Regions from separate parts of the Homo sapiens genome. Here regions 2 and 3 are each linked to region 1. The links come from fine-mapping of genetic effects on gene expression. A gene starts in region 1. Each other region holds a variant in brackets. All regions are shown on one strand. Distances are from middle to middle.

Region 1 (2,760 bases):
ATGTAGTGAGCAAGGTTCAGGGAGATTAGCTAACTGCAGGCAGACTGATCTTCCTGTGCAGAGAAATAAGGTAGATTCTCATTATCTTCCAGCTCATTTTCCCAAGAATTATGTATTCTCCGGCCAGAAAACGACCTCCAAACCTCCAAACCTTTTCAACTACACGCAGCAAAAAGCTAATACAATGCCTTCTGCATTTGACTGTACGTCTCCTGCAGTGATTAATGCTGCCTCCCTAACTACATTGTCCGGAGCAAGTGTCAAGCCCAATTATTTCTCTAGGATCTCCTGATAGTAAATGCTCAGCAAATATACAGACGAATAACACCTAATCATACACAATAATCTTAGAGTACTTTCCCCATACATTTCCTAACTTAATCCTTACAACAACCCTGTGAAGTTATTAACTCCCATTTTCCAGTTAAGGAAACTGATGCTCAGCAAAGTTAACTGGCACATCCAGTATCATACAGCCAGTAAGAAAGAATTCTGTTCAGTACGCCTTACTGATTAAATGAACTATGTGGCCTGAAGAAAAAGTGTCAGCTCAGTCTTTCCCCATCACGCATCTTATTCCATGGAGTAACCTGCATTATATTTCAGGGTCAGGCACACTAAGTTTGCGCTTTAGTATATGGTGAATAAATGGATGGACACAGTGGCGGCTCTGTATAAGTCAGCTGAAAGCAAACAAAGGGAAGGCAGAATCTTTCATTCACACGATTTATCCGCGCCCACTGGGTGCACTACGGTCGGGCATTGGCGACCCAGGAGCGACTGACCTGCCCTCATGGGGCTTACGGTCCTTAGCAAAAAACAGATGTAAAACAACTAATATTACAGTAAATGAATCATAATTTTGTGAGATGCTCCTGAAAGTATGTAGCAGGACGCTCCGCTCTGGTCCGAATGAAGAGCCATTTGCACTCAGTGTGGAAAGGCTAGCCTTTTTCTGGGCAAAAGAAGCGGGGGATACATTTAGATAGGCAGAAGTTCCGAGCAGAAGTCAAGGCAAATTAAAAAGGCAACAGGAGGAGGGAAAATGCTTCTCACAAACAGAACTCGACCTAGGGGACCGCAACTCTCCAGTCCTGCTGCTTGGCTGCCTACCTACCTAAGAAAAGCAGGAAAGAAAAAGAGAAGACGGGGTGGGGGATGGAGGACAAATACAGAAAAAGAAAAAAGAGCGAAGGAAGTGAGAAGTGAGAGGCCAGTTTATGTAAGCGGGCAGGGCGGCGCGGCCGGCAGGAGACCGGCGCCGGCGCCGAGGGAGTTAAGCGGACGGGCCCGGTATGGAAGAGGTTAAGGGGGGCAGTCCGGAGCGGGTCCGGTAGGGGCCGCCTACTGGGCGGGGGCGGGGCCGCGCCGAGCGAGCGCTGGGATTGGCCGTCGGGCAGGCGCTACGCTAGGACGGTACCAACAGCCGGGGGCCTCGGAGGCGGGGGGGTGGGTGTGGGACTGCCGCTCTGCGCGGCGAGAGGTGGCCTGGGAATGGCCGGGCCGGGGGTGGGCCGGAGCCGCTGTGGCGGCGGCGGCGGCTGGGGGCGGTGAGCGCGGCGTGGGGCTGCCCCTCCCCGGAGGCGGCGGGGGCGGCCGGGGCCGCGCCGCACCGCACCGCGCGGGCGGCCATGGAGCGAGCCTAGGGCCCGACAGGTGAGTGGCGCGGGGGCGGGGGAGGGCGCGCGACCCCCGCCCCCGGCGCGGCGGGCGGGAAAATGCGGACCGGCACGCGGGCGGGGCACGGTACGTAGCGCGCGCCGGGCTGGGGCCGCCTGGGGGCGGGGCGCCTCCCTGAGGGGCCGGGCACCGGGTGCCCTGAGCCGTCCCCGAGTGGCTGCGGGCGGGTCCCGGGCGAGGGCCCGAGGCTTCCTGGGAGACCCGCTCGGGCCGCGTGTCCCTGTGTGCGGTCGCGGCTGAAGGGACGCGGCCTCGGCCGCCACGTCCCTGGCCCACCTGAGGCGCGGGCCCACCTGGGGCCGCCTCAGGCTGCCAGAGGTCCTTCTAGTGACCGTCTCTCGTCCCCTTGCGCGGTCCCCAGAGGCGATTGGCCCCGGTGCCTCTCTTGTGTTCCCCGGAGCGCCCGTTGAGGCAGCCCAGGGAGCGCGCCCTCGCGGGGTCTTTGCTGGGCCCGCCTCGTGGCCGGGAAGCGCGAGTGACCTGCAGGCCGGAGGCGGAAGGCGGGGCAACCGTGCCCGGGGCCCGCGGTCTCCTGGGGTCCTGCGCCGGGCGCTCGCAGAAGGGCACAACTTAACGAATGCTGTGTTAGCCCTCAGTGGGCTGCGCTTGAGATTTCATTTCCGGGTGTGACGGCCCCGCGATTAAGAGCGGACCGATACGTTTCCCTTAATGATGAATGTGAATAGTTGTCGAGCTGCGTCCTTGATTGTGGGTTCTGATAAGAGATTCATTCTAATCTGACTTCTGTTAACCTGCCAGTCTCCGGATAAGAAGAGAAGGGGTAGAAGGATGGATTGGAGGGAAAGTAGGGGTAACAGGGCTTGGTTAGTCTTAATGGAATTATTAGTCCTTTTAAAGACCATACCATCATTGGGATGGATAAGGAGTTTCTAATTTGGGAAAATGAGAGTTGCTTGCTATTGCGACTTGGGTCTAGTGCCAGATATCAGCATCTTCCCCACCCAGCCAGCTTCCCTCTGGAGGTTTGATTTCTCACTTGGAAGGGAAGTAGGAATGTGGGGTTTTTTTTAGCCTTTAGCCTTTAAACTGTAGGACTTTATAAATCTATAATCTGGTACA
Region 2 (2,760 bases), 46 kb after region 1:
TAATGAACAGAAATTTATTGGTTCACAGTTCTGGAGGCTAGAACGTTAAATATCAAGGTGCCAGCATCTGACAAGGGACTTATTGCTGTGTCATCATGTCACATGGCAGAAGGCAAAAGGGCAAAGAGAGAGGGCAACAAGGGGCTGAACTCGCCTTTTTTTTTTTTTTTTTTTTTTTTTTTGAGATGGAGTCTTGCTCTTTTGCCCAGGCTGGAGTGCAGTGGCACAATCTTGGCTCACTGCAACCTCCACCTCCCGGGTTCAAGTGATTCTTGTGCCTCAGCCTCCCAAGTAGCTGGGATTACAGGCACCTGCCACCACGCCCAGCTAATTTTTGTATTTTTAGTAGAGACGGGGTTTTACCATGTTGGCCAGCCTGGTCTTGAACTCCCAACCTGAGGGCCCACCTCGGCCTCCCAAAGTGTTGGGATTACAGATGTGAGCCACCGCTCCTGGCCTTGAACTTGCCTTTTAATAACAGCATTAGTTCCACCCATGAGGGCAGAGCACTCATGGCCTAACGACCTCTTAAAAGACTCTACCTTGATACTGTTACAATGGCAATTTCAACATGTATTTTGTAGGGGACAGACATTCAAATGGTAGCAGTTGGTGAAATAAGGCAGATAGGTATCCTTAAAATAATTTTTTCCGCCAGGCGCAGTGGCTCACGCCTGTAATCCCAGCACTTTGGGAGGCCGAGGCGGGCGGATCACGAGGTCAGGAGATCAAGACCATCCTGGCTAACACGGTGAAAACCCGTCTCTACTAAAAAATACAAAAAAATTAGCCGGGCGTGGTGGCGGGTGCCTGTAGTCCCAGCTACTCAGGAGGCTGAGGCAGGAGAATGGCGTGAACCCGGGAGGCAGAGCTTGCAGTGAGCCGAGATCACACCACTGCACTCCAGCCTGGGCGACAGAGCAAGACTCTGTCTCAAAAAAAAAATAATAATAATAATTTTTTCCCAGTAGAAATTATTTTAGACTTCAGAAACACATGAGGAAGAAGGAAGTTTATAGTACCCATTAACGTCTAAGGATTAACGTCTAAGGATCCTCTTGTTAACACTGTAGTGTACTTCATTCCAATCCATGTATGTGTATTTTGTTTTCCTACAGATTTGAAGTGAAACAGGTTTTTCCTCCAACCTCTTCCCCCCACCCAGCATCATATCATAGGCATTTTCCCATTCCACTAAATTTTCAAAATTGTTTTTAACAGCTGCATGGTATTCCTTTCAATGGATGAACCATAATTTAACTATTTCCCAGTCGTTAGACATTCAGATTGTTCAACATTTTTCCTGTTATAAACAGCACTGCAGTGAACATGTGTGTAAATCTCTGTATATATCTCTGATTAGTTACACAGAAACAATATCAAAACATAGTAATGTGGCTTACTCATTATGTAGGGGTAATTCTAAAGCAAAAA[T/C]TATTTAGTTAAAGGATTTTACCTAATTATTTTTTCACTTTTGTCTGCCTAGCAGGCTTTCAACTCCGTTTGATAATGAGAAGTTTTATGTACCTTGTTCTATAACTTTTTCTCCCAGCATTCGGGTGTCCACCTGGAACAGACTGAACTACCTAAAGAATGGTGTGCTAAAGTCTGCCTTAAAATCTGCCATGGCCCATGACCCCATCTCCCCAGTGCTCTCTGATCCTCATCTGGACGCCGTGGACCAGCGGCTCCTGAGTGTCCTGGCCACCGTGAAGCAGTGCACCGACCAGTTTGGGATGGACACAGTACTGGTGGAAGACAGGATGCCTCTCTCACACTTGTAATTCTCGACACAAAATAAGTGAAACTTCTTTTTACAAAGATAGAGAAACAGCACAATCAATTCCAAATGGTATGAGATGGATTGGAAGTGGCCAGCAGCAAGTTCTGGTGACGGGACAGAGTGGCCTTGGATGTCTTTGGTATTTTCTGTAGTAGAAACTAAAGCAAAGACCACAAGTTTCAGAGCATGGAGACATTCCTGCTGAATCGCCTTCTCACCTCCTCGGCAATTGCTCATTCTAGGGTTGGGCATCATAGTTGGTCAGTCTTAATTCCCATGCCAAAGGACAAACAGGTGTGACATTTGGATAGATGAATACTGGGATTGGCTCTGGAGCATGTGTTTTGAGTTGAACCTTGCAGTCCTTTCTCTACGCCCGTGGATTTTGTGGAAACACTTTGCAATCTCTTTGTCTTTTTTTTTTTTACCAGAACTAGTTACATTGGAATGCTTACTGTCCTACAGAGTGGCAGCAAATAAAACCTTGCATTCCATCAAGCCAAAATAGCACACTCTGTTAGAGGAGATACATGTTTAAGATAGAATTGGAGGGAAGGACAAAAACAGAAAAATGTTTGGGCTTTTAAGCCATTGGGTAGTATTGTTTTGATGATCTTAGAGGAGGGAAGAAGAGAGAGAGACCCAATGGTAGAACCAGAATCAGGGAGATGACTGAACTACTGAAAAACAGGTTCCCTTGTATTTAGGATCTTAAGGTGTATAAAAAGCAAACATGACTTTGCACCTAAGTAAATTCTGCATTCTCATAGTTGTGTCCCAATTAACCAAAAAGTTGTCTCTAGAGAAAATACTATTACAATCTAAGCATGATTCTCTGTGGAGACTAATTTTTTCCCCTTTTGCCAAAAGCAGTCCTTCCCAAATTAACAAAGCAAACTGAAATAATACCTTGAATAACAGGTTGCCTGTGGTCTCTGTCATCCTCGTTTCTCTTCTGAAATGAATTTCCACCTCTG
Region 3 (2,760 bases), 50 kb after region 1:
AATCTTGGAGAAAACCAACCATAAACTTACAGCTCTAAAATTCAGAAAGCCCTAAAATTTCAAACACTGTTTGAAAGAAGAGGTGGGGGCCGGGTGCCGTGGCTCATGCCTGTCATCCCAGCATTTGGGAGGCTGAGGCAGGCAGATCACCTGAGGCCAGGAGTTCGAGACCAGCCTGGCTGGCTAGCATGGTGAGACCGTCTCTACTAAAAATGCAAAAATTAACAGGGCACGGTGGCATGCGCCTGTAGTCCCAGCTACTCGGGAGGCTGAGGCAGGAGAATCACTTGAATCCAGGAGGCGAAGGTTGCAGTGAGCTGAGATTGTGCTGCTGCACTCCAGCCTGGGAGACAGAGCGAGACTCTGTCTTAAAAAAAAAAAAAGGAGGTGAATTTTTTTTTAAGTTTTGTAACACTGTCCTACTTTATTTATTAGAATCTAAGGCTGTTACAATCAAGTCGTTGCAGGGTTTGGATCAGCTGTAAGTTAGGTATGCCTACCAAACATCCAAAGGTAGACGTGGAGACATTTTAATACTACAAAACTAGGAAAATCAGAACTCATGGCCATTTCCTGCCCTCCTCCAACTTGTTAAAACATGTTTATTCTAAAGTTCGAATGGATAAATTTGAGTATAAAGGTTTTGTTATAAAACTGTTCTTTAGTGTAAGGCTGCATTGTGGGTTTGGGGGAAATGTAAATAATTTTCTGTGTAAAACAAATTCATAGGATCTGATTTGCTCAGAGTATTATTCAAGAATGTATTAATAAGGCATTGCCCCCTGTTTGCACTCAGGGTTAATATGTCAAATGAAATTTAAGAAGGAAATGGAAGAATTCAGGTACATTAATTGCATATTATTTTGGGAAAGATGAGTCCTATACGTGGCAATTTTTCAATGTCATCTGAAGCCAGCATTATCTTCCAAAGAAATCGATCTTTTTTTTCTAAAAAAAAAAAATGCTTTTGCCTTCCCTTCCCTTCCCATCCGCCATATTTCTTCAGCCTTTCTTCTCGATCACCCGTGTATTCTTTGACCAGTAAATGACCACACCTCAATGATGGTAAAACAGCATCATCAGTAAGCTATCTTATATGCCTCATCCTGTGAGTTTGAGCTTCAGGAAACATGAGTAAAAGTATATGTAATGTATATAGTCGTATATGTATTCTAGCAAGAAAAACATATTTATTTTGACAAAGGGGAACACTGACTTTCTGAAGGATTCAGAAAGAACCTTAGTGAAAGGTTCTCAGTCTCTGAGAGTGGACCCTAATTAACATAAAGACCATTCATCAGCGAATAACTACTGAGCAACTCTAGTGTGCCAGCACAGGCCAGACATACTAGTGAGCCAGGCACATCTGGCCTTGGGAAACTCATCCTACAGGGGAAGGCCAGTTTTTTTCCCTTCAATTCCTCAAGTCTGGGTGGTGACAAGGTAGGGGCTAGGTACTGGACTACCACAGGTTTTTAGGAACTAAGGTGTTTCTCATAAACACAAAATGTTGGGTGAAACTGGGAACAACTACTCAGAAGCT[C/A]ATTTATTTGCTTAAATGGAAAGTGTGGGAGCCACTACCCTCTCTTTTGATCTGCCAAGGATTTCCTCTCAGAGCTGTTGCACAGACAGAGATTGTACTTGGTAAGATACCAAACAAGACAGATATGGATCTAAATTTCTAATGTGTTCTATGGGTTTCAATTCTGAAAAAAGAAAATGAATAAAGATTTTAATAAATATTGATATCTGATCTTTTCCTCTTCTTTCCCCCTTCAGGATATTTCCAGTGGTTCCTATTTCAGTTCCCTTCCTGTTAGGGGACAGAAGAAGATTACATCTTTTGTGACCACTTAAACTTCCACAGGGATAGTTTCACAGTACCTGGTGGATTAGACCTTTAAATTTCCTCACCAGTCTTCAAACGGTTCATACTAGATTGTAACTATACCAAAATTTTCTATGGGATCATTGTTAGGTGCTTTTTGTATATTTAATAGTTAACTCCATTTTTGCAGCTTCCTTAGAGGTAAAGAATTATGAATCCTGAAGAACTTGTCAGCACACTACAAAAAAGGCAGGAAGAGAAGGCCAGTTGCCCTAGTAGTACTTCTTAGGACACCTAGATTTTTAACTTTTGAAATAGAATCCAGCATCATAAACCTCAACCAGGTAACTGAGCAAAGCTCTTAAGATTTTTATTGGGCCAGGCACCATGGCTCATGTCTGTAATCCCGGCACTTTGGGAGGCCAAGGCCCGTGGGTCACCTGAGGTCGGGAGTTTGAGACCAGCCTGGCCAACATGGTGAAACCCCTTCTCTACTAAAAATACAAAATTAGCCAGCTTGGTGCATGCCTGTAATCCCAGCTACTCTGGGGAGGCTGAGGCAGGAGAATCGCTTGAACCCGGGAGGCGGAGAGCTGGGATTGTGCCATTGCACTCCAGCCTGGGCAACAAGAGTGAAACTCAGTCTCAAAAAAAGAAAAAAAAAAAATAGCTGGGTGTGGTGGCAGGCGCCTGTAATCCCGGCTACTCGGAGGCTGAGGCAGGAAAATTGCTTGAACCCAGCAGGCGGAGGTTGCAATGAGCCGAGATCGTGCCATTGCACTCCAGCCTGGGCAACGAGCGAAACTCTGTCTCAAAAAACAAAACAAAACTATTTTATTTGCAGCATATTTGTGCTAGTTTTTGTCATTTGTACATGAATACATGTGGGAGGCTAGTAGAGCCTGGTCTGTGTATCTCACTGACTCACCACA

Direction of the effects. Positions count from the first base shown, and alleles are read on the strand shown. Sizes are in standard deviations (SD) of each study's normalised expression. Not every link is listed here.
For the expression in vagina of the gene that starts at base 1,452 in region 1, allele T in region 2 goes with a lower level than allele C (small effect, 0.34 SD a copy in GTEx).

Evidence for each region. PIP is the estimated chance that this variant, and not a neighbour inherited with it, causes the effect.
Region 2: its variant is fine-mapped to the expression of FAM20B in vagina (GTEx, PIP 0.94).
Region 3: its variant is fine-mapped to the expression of FAM20B in whole blood (INTERVAL, PIP above 0.99).

The regions. Positions count from the first base shown.
Region 1 is chr1:179,024,443-179,027,202 of GRCh38, forward strand. FAM20B (FAM20B glycosaminoglycan xylosylkinase) reads left to right here and starts at 1,452. Exons shown (of 8, transcript NM_014864.4): 1 at 1,452-1,656. RefSeq lists silencers at 1,269-1,458, 1,499-2,238.
Region 2 is chr1:179,070,361-179,073,120 of GRCh38, forward strand. It overlaps FAM20B (FAM20B glycosaminoglycan xylosylkinase), which reads left to right. Exons shown (of 8, transcript NM_014864.4): 8 at 1,553-2,760. The coding sequence ends at 1,784. Among named protein-coding and RNA genes, the nearest start is that of TOR3A, 10 kb to the right of the region's middle. The variant T/C (reference allele first, on the strand shown) is at 1,435.
Region 3 is chr1:179,074,822-179,077,581 of GRCh38, forward strand. It overlaps FAM20B (FAM20B glycosaminoglycan xylosylkinase), which reads left to right. Exons shown (of 8, transcript NM_014864.4): 8 at 1-1,746. Among named protein-coding and RNA genes, the nearest start is that of TOR3A, 5.9 kb to the right of the region's middle. The variant C/A (reference allele first, on the strand shown) is at 1,544.